2 linked regions of the Homo sapiens genome follow. The protein of the gene in region 2 interacts with the protein of the main gene of each other region in a pairwise test. Each region holds a gene or a part of one and is shown on either strand. Other genes may lie near its edges.

The links. The genes of interacting proteins can lie anywhere in the genome.
Region 1: the proteins of AGR3 (region 2) and DESI1 interact in binary tests that used the Homo sapiens proteins (3 or more experiments, as listed by UniProt).

The regions. Positions count from the first base shown.
Region 1 is NC_000022.11:41,603,127-41,611,446, reverse strand, and holds part of DESI1 (desumoylating isopeptidase 1), read left to right. Parts: intron 1-3,585; coding exon 3,586-3,607; intron 3,608-3,817; exon of another isoform or gene 3,818-3,921; coding exon of another isoform or gene 3,922-3,959; intron 3,960-4,115; coding exon 4,116-4,185; intron 4,186-7,293; coding exon 7,294-7,403; intron 7,404-8,065; coding exon 8,066-8,188; intron 8,189-8,320. UniProt on the Homo sapiens protein: Protease which deconjugates SUMO1, SUMO2 and SUMO3 from some substrate proteins. Has isopeptidase but not SUMO-processing activity. Desumoylates ZBTB46. Collaborates with UBQLN4 in the export of ubiquitinated proteins from the nucleus to the cytoplasm.
Region 2 is NC_000007.14:16,858,550-16,865,941, forward strand, and holds the end of AGR3 (anterior gradient protein 3 precursor), read right to left. Parts: intron 4,114-7,392; coding exon 4,061-4,113; intron 3,512-4,060; coding exon 3,435-3,511; intron 2,899-3,434; coding exon 2,835-2,898; intron 2,035-2,834; coding exon 1,951-2,034; intron 1,083-1,950; coding exon 1,033-1,082; 3' UTR 863-1,032; downstream 1-862. UniProt on the Homo sapiens protein: Required for calcium-mediated regulation of ciliary beat frequency and mucociliary clearance in the airway. Might be involved in the regulation of intracellular calcium in tracheal epithelial cells.

The DNA of each region.
Region 1 (8,320 bases), on a different chromosome or scaffold from region 2:
AAAATGCAGTGTTAGGCCACATAGAGTGGCTCACACCTGTAATCCCAGTACTTTGGGAGGCTGAGGAGGGCAGATCTCCTGAGGTCAGGAGTTCGAGACCAGCCTGGGCAACATGGTGAAACCCAATCTCTACTAAAAATACAGAAATTAGCTGGGCATGGTGGCGCACACCTGTAATCCCAGCCTGTACTTGGGAGTCTGAGGCACCAGAATTGCTTGAGCCCAGGAGGCGGAGGTTGCAGTGAGCCAAGATCGTGCCACTGCACTCCAACCTAGGCAATAGAGTGAGACTCTGTCTCAAAAAAAGGAATGTTAGTCTCCCCATTTTACATATAGTAAACAGGAAAGAGGAGATTTAGTATCTTATAGCCCAGTGGAACCCAGGGTTTGAAGATGCTCGTCCTAAATGGATTACCACTCCCCTTTGGCATCCAGTCTGGTTCTCATCAACCACTGTGAAATTTCACCTCAGTTTGGATAAGGTCAGAACCTGCCTCACATTCTTTAGGGTGCTATCCCCAGAAACCCCTGGCTAGGATCCCTCTATCCACTTGTGGTCTTTTTTTTTTTTTTGAGACAGAGTTTCGCTCTTTTCACCCAGGCTGGAGTACAATGGCGCCATCTCAGCTCGTCGCAACCTCCGCCTCCTGGGTTCAAGTGATTCTTCTGCCTCAGCCTCCCAAGTAGCTGGGATTACAGGCGCCTGCCACCACGCCCAGCTAATTTTTGTATTTTTAGTAGAGACGGGGTTTCATCATGTTGGCCAGGCTGATCTCAAACTCCTGACCTCAGGTGATCCACCACGCCCGGCCCACTTGTGGTCTTCCGGGCCAGAGCAGCAGATCTCTTGGTGAAAAGCAGACTGATCTCTGGAATTGGAACAGAGGCAGAAGTACTCCGCTACATTTCATTTTCTTGTTATTCCATTTAGCCTGGGAACACTAACAGCAAAGAATGGAATTTTACATGTAAAATAGATATAGCATTTCATATTAATTTGCTGGATGTTGAAATCTGTTCTTAGATTTTACTTACCAATACTGAAGTAGAATTTTTTTTTTTTTTGAGACAGAGTCTCACCCTGTTGCCCAGGCTGGAGTACAGTAGTGGCACGATCTCGGCTCACTGCAACCTCCACCTCCCAGGTTCAAACGATTTTCCTGCCTCAGCTTCCCGAGTAGCTGGGATTACAGGTGCCTGCCACCATGCCCAGCTAATTTTTGTATTTTTAGTAGAGACAGGGTTTCACCATGTTGGTCAGGCTAATCTTGAACTCCTGACCTGTGATCCGCCTGCCTCGGCCTCCCAAAGTGCTGGGATTACAGGCGTGAGCCACCGTACCTTGTCTTTTTTTTTTTTTTTTTTTAAGATAGAGTTTTGCTCTTGTTGCCCAGGCTGGAGTGCAATGGCGCAATCTCGGCTCACTGCAACCTCTGCCTCCTGGGTTCAGGCGATTCTCCTGCCTCAGCCTCCCGAGTAGCTGGGACTATAGGCATGCACTACCATGCCCGGCTAATTTTGTGTTTTTAGTAGAAACGGGGTTGTTGACCAGGCTGGTCTCGAACTCCTGACCTCATGTGATCTGCCCGCCTCGGCCTCCCAAAGTGCTGGGATTACAGGTGTGAGCCACCACACCTGGCCTATTTTTTGTTTTATTTGAGACAGGGTCTCACTCTGTTGCCCAGGCTAGAGTACAGTGGCGCAATCTCGGCTCACTGCCTCCCAAGTTCAAGCAATTCTCGTGCCTCAGCCTCCTGAGTAGCTGGGACTACAGGTGCATGCCACCACACCCAGAGAGTTTTTTTATTTTTATTTTTAGTAAAGACTGGGTTTCTCTGTTGGCCAGGCTGGTCTTGAACTCCTGGCTTCAAGTAATCTGCCTGCCTCGGCCTCCCAAAGTGCTGGGATTACAGGGGTGGGCCACTGTGACATGTCTGAAGTAGAATTTATTTTTATCTTCTGGAAGTCTTTACCCTTTTCCCCAAGGAGGTCATTGTACCTAATAAGAGCCTCCATTTATCAGACATCTGTATATCACATACTGTGAAGCTTTCTATACATTAACATTACCAGTCACAGCAACTCTGAACTGGAGAAACAGACTTAAACAGGCTGGGTAAACTTGCCCAAGATCCACCACTAGGAAGTGGAAAATCCAGGATCTGAACCCATATGGTCCCCTTAACTATCTCTGAGGATGCTATGCCAAGTGTGTGGTGGCTCATGCCTGTAATCCTAGCACTTTGGGAGGCTGAGGCAGGTGGATCACTTGAGGCGAGGAGTTCGAGACCAGCCTGGCCGACATGGCAAAATCCTGTCTCTACTAAAAATACAAAAATCAGCCGGGCTTGGTGGTGCATGCCTGTAATCCCAGCTACTTGGGAGGCTGAGGCATGAGAATCACTTGAACCCGGGGGGCAGAGGTTGCAATGAGCCGAGATCACGTCACTTCACTCCAGCCTGGGCAACAGAGAGACTCTGCCTCTAAAAAAAAGAAAGGCACAGGGCAAACAGCGAAGGTAGCAGTTAGCAATCAGTAATCTGCCATGTCGCCGTGTGAAGTGATAAGCAGGAGTGAGTGGGTGATGTTTGCTGACACTCCACGTCTTTCAATGCCCTTCCTCTGCCTCCTGAGCACTGCTGTAGAGTATCTCTCATGGACTCTTGTGATGGTCTGCTTGGTCTGCTCTCTTCCCTCCAATTCATCTGCTATCCCACAACTACAGTTATCTTTTCCGAACATGGATCTGATCAAGGCACTCTCCAGCCTCACAGCCTCTTTGAGTCCAGGCCTGCCCGCTTTGCTGGCCATCCTGTTGGCCGCTCCTCCCCTTGGCACCATCACTGCCCCCTTCACTCTGCCCTGCAGGCTTTAGACTTCACAGCCATGCATGTGCACATCTTGTTCTCTCCCACAGAAATGTCCATCCCTGCCCTTACTTGTCATTGGTAATGGAAGCTCACAAAAGTAGTTTATTATATTTAGTACCTTATTTTTACCACTATGATACAGCATATTAACATTGTGTTTTAGTTAATTATTTGTGTGTCTCAGTCCATTTGACTTTGAGCTTCTCAAGGGCAGGAAAGTGATACGTTCCTGTTTGCATTTCCACACCTAACATTGTTTCTGGCACATAGAGGTAGAATAACGTGCTTTAACTATTTAAATGGATAGCATTTGCAAAGTTTTATCCTATCAGTTTCTGAAGGATTTCACCTCAATGAAGAAATGAGTAATAACATTCATTGTATTACTATAGTCTTACTGTACGTGAGACAGAGAAGTTAAAAAGGCATAGCTGAATTGACCCCAAAGAGGAAAGAATAGCAGACATAAAACTGGGGTACCTTTATACTAGTGTTTTTAATCTTGCATTCTGATAAAAGACTCTCATTACTTTTCAACTTACTTACACTCTGTCACAACCTAAAGACCTTACTGGAGGGGACTTGCATTCCTAGAAAGTCCCTCAAGAGGTTTATGACAGGTTACCCTGGGTTTGAGTGATGTCATGAATTTACCAAGGCTGAGGGGCCACTTATTCTAGTCCCAAGTGGCTAAATCTCTTCTTCTCTCCACAGGGAAACAACTGGAAGGCATCTGGTAAGTTGGGTGGGTCTCCTTACTTTGACTAGTTTTGAAACAAGGCAGCACTCTATGCATTTCAGGTTCTAGTCTGTGGCTTCCAGCATGAAACCTAGCTCTCCATGCTATAAATCTTCAAGCCCTAAAGCAGTGCTTCTCATCAGTTCTTTTGCTCTCTCACCCTGGGACATTTGGCCATGTCCAGAGATATTTTTGGTTGTCATACAGGGAGGAGGATGCTACTGGCATCTTGTGGATAGAGGCAGGGACGCTGCTCAACAGACTAGAATGCACAGGACAGCCCCACACAACAAAGAAGTATCCAGCCTCAAATGTCAATAGTGCCAAGATTGAGAAGCCCTGATCTGTGGTATTTATCATATTCATACCTTTGGTTTGTTGGTTTTATAAGACTGGTCCCCACAGTCCTATCCTTGGGCAGAAATTACTCTCATTGCATTATGGTGTTTGCTTTTTCTCAAAAGTTTAAGTTTTCTGGCTTACTGTGTCTCTCTCTGTGTGACAGGCACACATCCATAGTTGTGCACAAGGATGAGTTCTTCTTCGGCAGTGGTGGTATCTCCAGCTGCCCCCCGGTGAGTGTCTTCCCCTACACTCTGTCCTGCAGTCTCAGGTTCCTGGGGGCTCCTGTAGACCAGGAGCTTTGCTTCTACTATGGACTTCTGGCATTGTTCCTCAAAGCCACCTGAAGACTTGGCTCAATAAAACCTTTCCCAGACACCCCAGCCAGTTCCTCTCCTCTCTGTTCCCATGGCACGTGTGGGTCCTTCTGTCTCACAGAGAGCATGTTATGGTGAAATGAGCTGTTTCTGGTTCTCCACAGGGAACTGTGTAAGCTCCTTGCGAGCTGAGACCTTCCATCTCCATCCCCTGCACAGTGTCCGGCTCATCCTAGGAACGCAACTGATGTTAAGCTGAATGATGAGGGCTCTGAGAAGCATCAAGACTTGCCCAAACTTAAACAGCCAATAAGGGACACCAGTCCTAGAACCCAGGATTATCACACTAAAGCCCACACCCTTTTCCGAAAATTTCTTTTTTTTTTTTTTTTTTTTTTTTTTTTGAGATGGAGTCTCGCTCCGTCGCCCAGACTGAAGTGCAGTGGTGCGATCTCGGCTCACTGCAAGCTCCGCCTCCCGGGTTCGCGCCATTCTCCTGCCTCAGCCTCCCGAGTAGCTGGGATTACAGGTGCCTGCCACTACACCCAGCTAATTTTTTGTATATTTTAGTAGATACGGTGTTTCAGCATGTTGGCCAGGCTGATCTCAAACTTCTGACCTCGTGATTAGCCCACCTCGGCCTCCCAAAGTGCTGGGATTACAGGCGTGAGCCACAGCGCCCAGCCTTTTCCAAAAATTTCTATCAGCTATCCAAGTGTTGTCACAGTAGGTGCTCAAGCAATGGCCAAGCAGCCATTCATTTTGGTTGTGTGTTTGTTTGTTTTTGCTACATCCTACAGGAAGGATTTTTTTTTTTTTTTTGAGACGGGGTCTTGCTCTGTCACCCAGGCCAGAAATGCAGTGGCACAGTCTTGCTTACTGCAGCCTCCACCTCCCAGGCTCAATGAATCCTCCCACTTGAGCCACCTGAGTGGCTAGGACTCAGCACCACCACGCCCTGCTATTTTTTTCTATTTTTTTAGAGATAGGATCTCCCTATGTTGCCCAGACTGATCTCAAACTCCTGGGCTCAAGCAATCTACTGCATAAGCCAGAATTCTCCCATTGCTTTTGGAATAAAAGCCAGAAAACTCAGCATGGCCTCCCAGGACCTACCTGATCTGGTCTCTGACTCTGACTCTGGCCAGCCTCTTTTAGGTTGTTCCCTCCCAACCCTCACTCTCTTCTCATTCTTTGAACACACCGTAGACATTGAAACCTGCACTCTGACATCAGTACACCTTCTTGATCCTTCACCTGGTTACGCCTCTCCATCCTTCAGATTTGAGTTGTGTCACTTTCTCAGGCAAGTCTTCCCTGATCCCTCAGACCGGGAAGGTCTCCTGTCATACGTACTGTTGGCATTCTGTACTTTTCCAGCCTCCCCTTAATTGCAGCTCATAATTATATACTGGTTAAGGGGATTTTTCAGTTTCCCTTCCCTGCTACACTAAGCTTCTTAACGGCAAGAATCTCATCTATTTTGTCCACACCACAGCCCCAGTGCCTAGCATAAGGCCTGACACATAATAAGTTCTCAATCCATAGTTGTTATATGAGTGAATAAGAGGGGTCAAAGAGTGACCTTTTAGTTTCTTACAACTCTGAGATAATTGTTCTCTGCCTACCATGGTTATCTTGCTCACCATGCTTTCCTCAGTGCCCAGAACAATGTCAGCTATGTAGGAGGTGCTCAGTGGCTATGAATGAATGATCTTTTCAGGGAGCTCTGTTCTGGAGTGTTATCCCTTCCCAGATTTGTTCTCCTGCTGATCCCGTTGCTTCCCCAGTGGCTGGTTTCCCCACTCAACCTCAGTCTCTCCTTCAGTTTTCTCTGGCAGTCTGTTAACCACATGGCTGAGGGTTTTCTGTAGGCCTTTCGGGAGCCATTAACTCCCTTGCCCTATGATGGTGATAGGGCAAGGATTAGGCTCACAGATCCAAAAAGAACTGAATTATGGAAATATCTGCCAGCCTGCCAGATTTCTCACCGTCCTCGTTTTTCCATTATTACACGGGATATCAAGTATATCATAAGAAAAACTGGCTGCATACTTTATGCAAATAGGCATGGAGAGATGGCCTGTGAAGTGTGAGCCATTTCTGTTGTCCTGTTCTGTCCTCATGATGAGACATACTGGGGACAAAAGTAGACTTCAGATTCTGGGTTTCTCTTTCTCAGCTGAGTAAGTGGACAGCATCAGGAGTCAGAGCTGCAAGAGAATCAGCTTCCCAGGGCCCCCCCTCCCCTCTAGAAACAAGAAGTCCGACTCCTAACTATGCTGCCAGCACATGGCAATGAAAAGTGACCAGAAAGCTCTAAGCCAAGCTTGTCCAACCTGCAGCCTGTGGGCCATACGCAGCCCAGGACAGCTTTGAAAGTGGCCTGACGTGAATTTGTAAAGTTTCTTAAAACATGAGATTTTTTTATCTTTTTTTTTTTTTAAGCTCATCAGCTATCATTAGTGTTAGTGTATTTTGTGTGTGGCCCAAGACCATTCTTCTTCCAGTGTGCCTCAGGGAAGCCAAAGGATTGGACACCAATGCTTCTAAGCTATTGCATCCTTGATACAAATAGCAAATCACATTCTTCATCTGCCCAGGGTGCTCTGCAAGTTAAATATGAAGTCAGGCTGGGCGCAGTAGCTCACACCTGTGATCTCAGCACTTTGGAAGGCCGAGGTGGGTGGATCACTTAAGGTCAGGAGTTTGAGACCAGCCTGACCAACATGGTGAAACCCTGTATCTACTAAAAATACAAAAAATTATCTGGGCATGGTGGCAGGCACCTGTAATCTCAGCTACTTGGGAGGCTGAGGCAGGAGGATCACTTGAACCCGGGAGGCGGAGGTTGCAGTGAGCTGAGATTATACTCCAGCCTGGGTGACGAGAGAAACTCCGTCTAAAAAAAAAAAAAAAAAAAAAAAGTCAGAACAGAGTGTTTGTGGTCTACTGTGGGAAGCCACATTAAAACATTCAGTGGAGATGGTAACTTAATGACTTCCTTTGGGTTGGCTCTTTTAGGGAGGGACATTGCTTGGGCCTCCAGACTCTGTGGTTGATGTGGGGAGTACAGAAGTCACAGAAGAAATCTTTCTGGAGTACCTCTCCTCCCTGGGGGAGTCCCTGTTCCGGTGAGTGGAGACAGGGGTGGTGGTTAGTTGTGTCTGTCTCCCCAGCTAGATAATAACCCCTGGAGGCAGCTGCCATGTCATATCATCCTTATCACTCAGCACAAGGCCTGGCCCAGTTTTTTGCTGAATTAACATGAAGAAAAGGCAGTTATGCTACAAAAAGCTCTAAGTTGTTCTGATACAGATATTCCTTCAAACATACTTTCTGCCGAAATTTTTAGAGGAAATAAGGGCTTTTCATTCCTTCTGATTAAAATCGGCAAGCGCTGTTCTCAACCTGTATTGGCCAAGTTTGCAGAAGGAAAAACAGGGTTTGCAGAAGGGTTGGGATGAAATACAAACTTGAGCAGATTTTCTCTGAAAGAGGCTTTAGTCAGTTTCAGTAAGGGGGTAAACTCTTAACACCAGAGTTCTGCTTTCGTGAATGTAAAGATTCTCCTGAAACTGTGTAGGAGCCATGTCTTTTCAGTTTCTCCTTCCCTTAAAAATCAGTTATTAATGGCCAGAATGGCAAATAAGCAGTGCTTTTCTGGTGTATGAGACGGGGGAAATCGCAATCCTCACATTGAGCTGTGCTCACCATTCCACTGCCTAGCTTGAGTTATTCCACATAGACGCTTGCTGGTTTCTCATATATGTTCTGCAAACCTTTCAATGTACAGAGGTGAGGCCTACAACCTCTTTGAACACAATTGTAACACCTTCAGCAACGAAGTGGCACAGTTCCTGACTGGGCGGAAGATTCCTTCTTACATCACAGACCTGCCCTCTGAAGTTCTCTCCACGTAAGTGTGGCCTCTGTCCCTGCCCCTGCCTTGGCCAACCTTGAAAATCCCCATTCACGGTCAGTGCCCTTCCTCTGGCCCCCATCTGCCCTCCCAACCAGGTGGGCCTGCCCTGATGGCAGATTCTAACAC
Region 2 (7,392 bases):
AAGTTTTAAAGTATCTACCCAATAATTAAGAAGAACATGTAGCTGGATGCAGTGGCTCGGGCCTGTAATCCCAACACTTTGGGAGGCTGAGGTGGTAGATCACCTGAGGTCAGGAGTTCGAGACCAGCCTGGCCAACATGGTGAAACCCTGTCTCTATTAAAAATACAAAAATTAGCCAGGTGTGGTGGTACACACCTGTAATCCCAGCTACTTGGGAGGCTGAGGCAGGAGAATCGCTTGAACGGGTAGCAGCGGGGACGTGGAGGTTGCAGTGAGCCAAGAGTGCGCCACTGCACTCCAGCCTGGGCAACAGAGCAAAACTTTGTCTCAAATAAATAAATAAATGTAGTTGAATTTTTAAAATATAATTAGGTTTTAAATGTCTAAGTGTAAAGTAAGAAAAGAAGTAAGTGGTTAGTGCTGAAATATGTAGCTAAAAGTTAAAGTCACAAGTGGACAGAGATTTATCCACTTGTTTTGGTAACATGGAGATCATTTATGACCTGGGTTAGCAGGTATGGTACAGGGGAGGAGACAGAATTAAAATTAGATTAGTTGGTGGTTAGACCAGGAACAGTGGCTCAGGCCTATAATCTCAGCACTCTGGCAGGCCAAGGTTGGAGGATTGCTTGAGCCCAGGAGTTTGAGACCAGCCTGGGCAACATAGTGAGACTGCATCTCAAAAAAAAAAATTTAGAAAATTAAAAATAAAATTAGATTAGTTGATGGAGTGAAGGAGAGGTGAAGAAATAGAGACAAACTGTATAGGCACCTCTTATTTAGGTCTTCTTGTCTCCACTATAACTCTTGGCAGGCTTTCTTTGCTACTGATGAGGCAGAAATAAAACTATATTGTCAGTCTCAGATTTAAAAAACATTTATTTTAATAAGACTATTGCAAACACATTAAAAAAACTAAATAGTAATATTACAAAATCTATATACTTGCACATTTAGTATTTGTCAATGTGCCAGAGGTTTTCTTCATGAAATTTGACTTCTTTGAAGTGAAGGCTTTTTTCCATCATCTCTTATAGCTCTGACTGAATAAGTCTTAATGCTTTCTTCATGTTTTCTATCACTGAAATAAGAGTTAATATATATTATGCTATTAATAAATGAAAGTACAAATGCTATGATCTATTAACTCTAGAACCTGAAATTGGCCCATTTAAATTAATAGCTTTGAACATGGGAATTCGTCTATGACATTAAAGAATATGCTAAAAGTGTACATGTAAATTTAGGGATTAGACCATTGAGAGCTGGTTGGTCAACTTTATGTTGAACAATTTCATCAGAGGGGTTTTGAGGAGTACCTCTTTTTTTTTAATGCATCACTTTGTATTAGTATTGCTAGATCTTACAGGCACAGTTGTCTTATTAAATATAGTTGATAATGAATGTTGTAAAAAATAGATTTGGCCAGGCATGGTAGGTCATGCTTGTAATCCCAGCATTTTGGGAGGCTGAGGTGGGAGGATCACTTGAGGCCAGGAGTTTGAGACCAGCCTGGGCAACATACCAAGACCCTGTCTCTACAAAAAAGAAAAAAAAAGGATTAAAGTCCTAGGTAAGACTGTACCTCCTTGCTTATAGGCATTAAAGAAAGATGAAATGATTTTACTATCATTTGATGAAATCACATGAGATCTTTGATACTAGGAGAATGGACTGTCTCAAGTTTGTGTCATTTTAATGTGTACTATATTCTTTTTAGTGAGCTCAGAATTTAGTAATCCTAAAATCCCTTAGACATCCCTGTTAAAATAGATTCTGAGGTACCCCCAAAATTCTGATTTTGGTGGGAGCTAGAAGTTGGCATTTAAACACCACCACTAGCCTCAGTGACTGGTGTGTAGAAGCACTGATGTAGGGCTTCACTAGCCCTTAACAAATAGTCAGGGGTCAGCTATGACCACTGTTTGAGATCATTTGTGAATACTTACATAGGGGTAAATCCCGAGGCTCATATGTGTACAATCTGTTAGAGTATCTTCCAGCTATGTCAGCTCTAACTGTTAAAGAAGGGTCTGTCAAGGAAAAAACCAAGTCACGAAAGTATAATTTAGCATGTTCTTTTCTTTACTCTTGTAAAAACTTAATTATTATTTTATATGTGGGGGTTATGTGTACAAGTTTGTTACACAGATATATTGTGTGATGCTGAAGTTTGGGCTTCAGCTGAACCCAACACCCTAATAGTGAACATAGTAGCCAACAGTTAGTTTTTCATCCTTTGGCTCCCTCCCTCCTTCCCCCGTTTTGGAGTTCCTATTGTCTATTTTTCCTCTCTTTATGTCCATGTGTAACCAGTGTTTAGCTCATATTTATATGTGTGAACATTCACTATTTGGTTTTCTGTTTCTGTGTTCATTTGCTTAGGATAATGGCCTCTGGCTACATCCATAAAACGTTCTTAAAATCATTTTTGTTTCTTAATCTAAAACAAATGTCAAACCAATTTATAATCTAAAACAAATGTCAAACCAATTTATAAGCAAAATTAGTTTTCATACATGTCAGTTCATGAATTAACCTGAATTCTCCTTTTAGTGTGTCATAGGTCTCTGTCAATCTAGTCTGGGGCACTGTGTTGAAAGTACATTGGGATATAGATTTAATAGCATACATGCTTTGAAAAAATATTTAAAATTTTCAAATTACAGATATAGTGGATTTTGATTGTAGAACTAACAAGAGCTGATATTATTGGATTAGAAATGACTTCTCTTTAAAAAGAATAGTACTTGAACTAGCATTTAAAAATAAAAGCAAGAATGCTGATTTCTACTAATTTTGTAGATCTGATGAAATGAGATCACATACATACCTACAAACATGATTCTAGGCACATATTGCCCATCAGGTGATAAATTCTTATCAGTGGTTTCATGCTAGCAGGAGAAGAAAAAAAAAGAATGTTATTGGATTCATTTGTTTTTGATAGTTTCAAGATGATTTTGTGTGACTGTCAGTAAATTCTATTTTGGCCTTTTATAATTCCATACAACTTTCTGTATTAACCAATATTTAGCTCTTTGTGCTTTAAAAATAGAAAAAAAGGAGGCTGGGCATGGTGGCTCATGCCTGTAATCCCAGCACTTTGGGAGGCTGAGGCGGGTGGATCACCTGAGGTCAGGAGTTTGAGACCAGCCTAACCAACAAGGTGAAACCCTGTCTCTACTAAAAATACAAAAATTAGCTGGGCATGGTGGCAGGTGCCTGTAGTCCCAGCTACTTGGGAGGCTGAGACAGGAGAACTGCTTGAACCAGGGAGGCTGAGGTTGCTGTGAGCCCAGATTACGCCACTGCACTCCAGCCTGGGTGACAGAGCGAGACTCTGTCTAAAAAAAAAAAAAAAAAAGAAAAAAACGGATTCAAAATTTCCATGAAATTATAGTATTAAGAAAACATCACAAAGTTTATGTACCATAAGGTTTAGCATGATGAACTTATTCTGAGCCATTTCTTGTATTTCTTCATTTTGGGCAAATACTTTCTTTAGTGCTATAGGGGAAAACAAAATTGCCAGTTAGTTTTAAGGATCAAGAGACCTTTAATGTAACATAGCAAAATAAAGCTAATATTTAGCATTTGTTTGCATATATAACTCAGGTGTAAATATTAATAGTTCATTGGCCTATTGCCACTTTGTCCCTCATTGGAAAGCAATGAGGGACAGTCTGTTCAAGGAGACATCAAAGGATAATCACAGTGAAGACACTAGTTTTTATAATTTTATGTAACTCATTGACTCATTGGTTAAGACAACGACTTTTTTTCAGTGTTTCTACACCTTCTCAGCTCACCCCTTTCTTTTCATGGGAAGAAGAGGAATATGTAATTCCCAAGGGAATATAATAGAAATATTCAGTAGATTGGTAACAATCATTGTGGTCTTTAAGCACCTTAGTAAAATGATGGTACTCTGGCAGTTGTCTATTTTTTTTAATGGGATTTGCTGAGCGCCTTCTTAGCTATTATTACCAGGTCACTTTTCCTATTTTATATTGGAAATATTATATATTATAATAAGATATCAGGGGCTAAAATTACCTTGAGAGTATTGACAATCCTCCAGGTGATGAATAACCATTAATGGCTTCTTACTAAACAAAGAAAGTATGGAATTAAGTCAAATGATTAACTTTGGGTCAAAATATACAGTAGAGTTAGATTTAAAATTTTATTAGCTTCAATAAGGCTTACAGTAGTAATCTCAGATTTACAAATCATAGCACTATAGTCAATAGCAGTGTTACTCTATTTGTGGCCTCAGAACTGATAGTATCAGTATCACTAGGTAGCTTATTAGGAATTTAAATTCAAAGGCTCCGTTCCCAAATCAGGAAAGCCTCCATTCCAAAATTAGCTGGGCACAGTGGTGTGAGCCTGTAGTCCCAGCTGCTCTGGAGGCTGAGACATGAGAATCGCTTGAACCCAGGAGGTGAGGTTGCGGTGAGCCGAGATGGCGCCACTGCACTCCAGCCTGGGTGACAGAGCGAGACTCTGTCTCAAACAGACAAACAAACAAAAAACCAAAGGCTTCATCCCAGACCCACTCAATCAGAATCTCTGGGGTTAGGGGTGGTTTCAGGAATCTGTAGCTTAACAAACTTATTAGGTAATTCTTATGTACTCTATAGTGCAGTTAGAGAAAATCAATTCTGTATCCAGAGATAAAGGGTTATTATGAACAATGTATTCATTTCCAATGAACACTTAGTATAAGATTTCAGGAAAGTCAAAGACTTTTACATTTAGTTTTTTAAAAAGTTTTTACAAAAAAGCTGTTAATATTTGGCTATTTTCACATCCTTTCATTCTTGCACGTTGCAGAATATACAAACAACCTGAGTGGGAGTTCCCTATTTCATACATTTTTGGGGGGTCATTTTGATTTTAACCATAAAAAGTTAAAAAGATAAAAATTCTTCCTCCTACTGCTAACTTCTATAACTATGCTGTATTACTTTTTCTTATATTTTCTCCCAGAGGTTTTCAGGTCATATAACTGAAAATCTATATGAATATGTTTATATATTGTATATACCCAGATGCATGTTCACATTTATGTGTATGTATTTCTTTTTAAAAAACAAAAATACTAGCACACAAGTATCTACATTTTGCTTTTAAAATATAAATCTTAGATATGCCACTGTTCTTTTATATTATATTCTATTATATTAATATTTTATCTTATTAGTCTCCCCAAAGATGGATATTTAAATTGTTTCCAATCTCTTGTGTTTAGATTGTTCCTAAACATTTACATTTGTACACTTATTTGCTAAACATGCTTTTTTTTTAAGGCACGCAGTTTCTTTACACCCATAATTGCATCCTAAACTCTTGTATAGTTCATATTTACAGCCCCCCATAAAGTTTTTGCATTCTGAATTAGTCCTTCACATTTTGATATTTGGCATAATGTTCAAACACACTTTATACACACTGACCTCTCCTTAAACCACTCATAGATTTAATAAATCCTACAGAAAAACATTCAGAGATTACTTGAAAGCTTGATCTTCTATTTACTTCAAGGTGACAGAAGAGTTAGTTTTTCGTGATGAAAGACTACAGGAACGGAGAATTAACAAACTGTTGTGTAATTCATCAGAGAAGTATATTAACTCTGCTGAAGTACCACTGAATGAAACAAAAATGAATCTGTGAAGTAGCAATCTGATTAGCAGGCTGGCTTCTATGTCCCATCACTCTCATAGTCTTCTATTATTATATTTTCTTCCACGTCTCCTTGGGCTGAAAAGAGCTGAGGCTGGCTGGCAGGCAGTTCACTGGCACTATTCTGACTCAGAGGAAGAGACCAGGTTTCCAGCTCTGTGTCCTGTGCGGGTTCACCCAGAGATTCCTCTGCAGAATGTCCTCCGTTAAGCTGGGCTTCATCTCCACTGTCAGGGTCGATCATTCCATGTTCCCTGTCAGTCAGGGCTTCCATTTTCAGTCTTCCGAAGTGTTGCTTCAGAGGGAGCCTTCCAATATCTTGGATAAGAGAAATCTGAGCTTGATTTCTCATTGGAATGGTTATTAGAGCAAGGTATGGCAGTAGCTGAGTTTGGAGGCATAAAGCTGGTAGGCAGAAGTCAGGAAAAAGTGCTTTTGCTGCCAGGCAATTTTCCCCATACTTTTTATGTATTAGAAACCACTGCGGTGTGTGCGAGGGTCAAAAACTTGATCCTTCTCCTTGGCAATGAGCATATCCTCCGGCTTTGTTGGAATGTATCACACCTCTTGTAGCTATAGATGTCCTATATTTCCTGAGTAAAGAGCGTGTATTCCAGTCACCACTGAGGATACCTGCAAAACTTAGAAATTCACTGGCTCTCACAATATCATCAATTTCCATGAAGAAGTCTATGTAGTTTTGGTGAAGATATAAATTAAATAAGTCTCCTGGCATGTGTGACATTTCTACTACCTCCTCAGGTTCAACAAGTATGTATCCTGTTCATATTCTGATAAATGAGAGGGCAACCAAGATGAGTCTGATTCTGTTAAAGATGCTCTTTTACTGTATAAAATTTTCCCCAAAGCTCGGAAGAGAAACAGAGAAACGTCTTTGCCACCAGTAGCTTGGACCTCTTGACTTTCAAAAACCCTATCAGTTTTTTTTCTTTGTTTTGATTTTGACAGCGTAGCATTTGATTTTAAAGACATTCTTTTTTTCCTTGGCCATAAGTTGTTTTCTCCTTTTGAAGAAGAAATCTGGAGGCTGTTTATTGCACTTCTCATATCACCAGAACATCCTTGACAGAGCACCTCTAGAGAAGTTTTGTCAGGGACAGTAATTTTTCCTCCATTCTTGTTAGCCTCTATAGTCACTATTCGATTAAGAAATTTCATCGTAATTGTTGGTGCCACAGGGTTGAAACTAATATTTGAGGTAGAATGCTCTTCCCGAATTTCTTTGGGGAACAAGAAACTTTGATTATTTTTACCACTGAGACTGTCACAGATTATAAATATAAAAGGATATCGACCAATCTTCACATACTTCCTTAGAACTTCATGTAAAGTATGAGAATCCCTATAAACTGGTTAGGTAAATCTTCAACCAGAATTATCTTCTTATCAGTTCTCAGATGATCTCCAAGCATTTGTAACTTGTTATACTTTGTTGCTCTTAGTAGAAACTCTTTGCAAACTGCTATCTGAGACTGATAGGGAAACATATGGAAGCTTGATTCAGTATGAAACATTTCCTTGAAATCATCTTTTTGGAAATCTGGTAAAACTGGATTAATCCACTCTTGTACTTGAATACCATTCTCCTTTGATAGCGTTTTTTTGGTCGTTGTCTTTCCACATCCAGGAGGACCTGTTATTAATAAAATAGATCCATCCTGTTTTGGTTGCCTTTC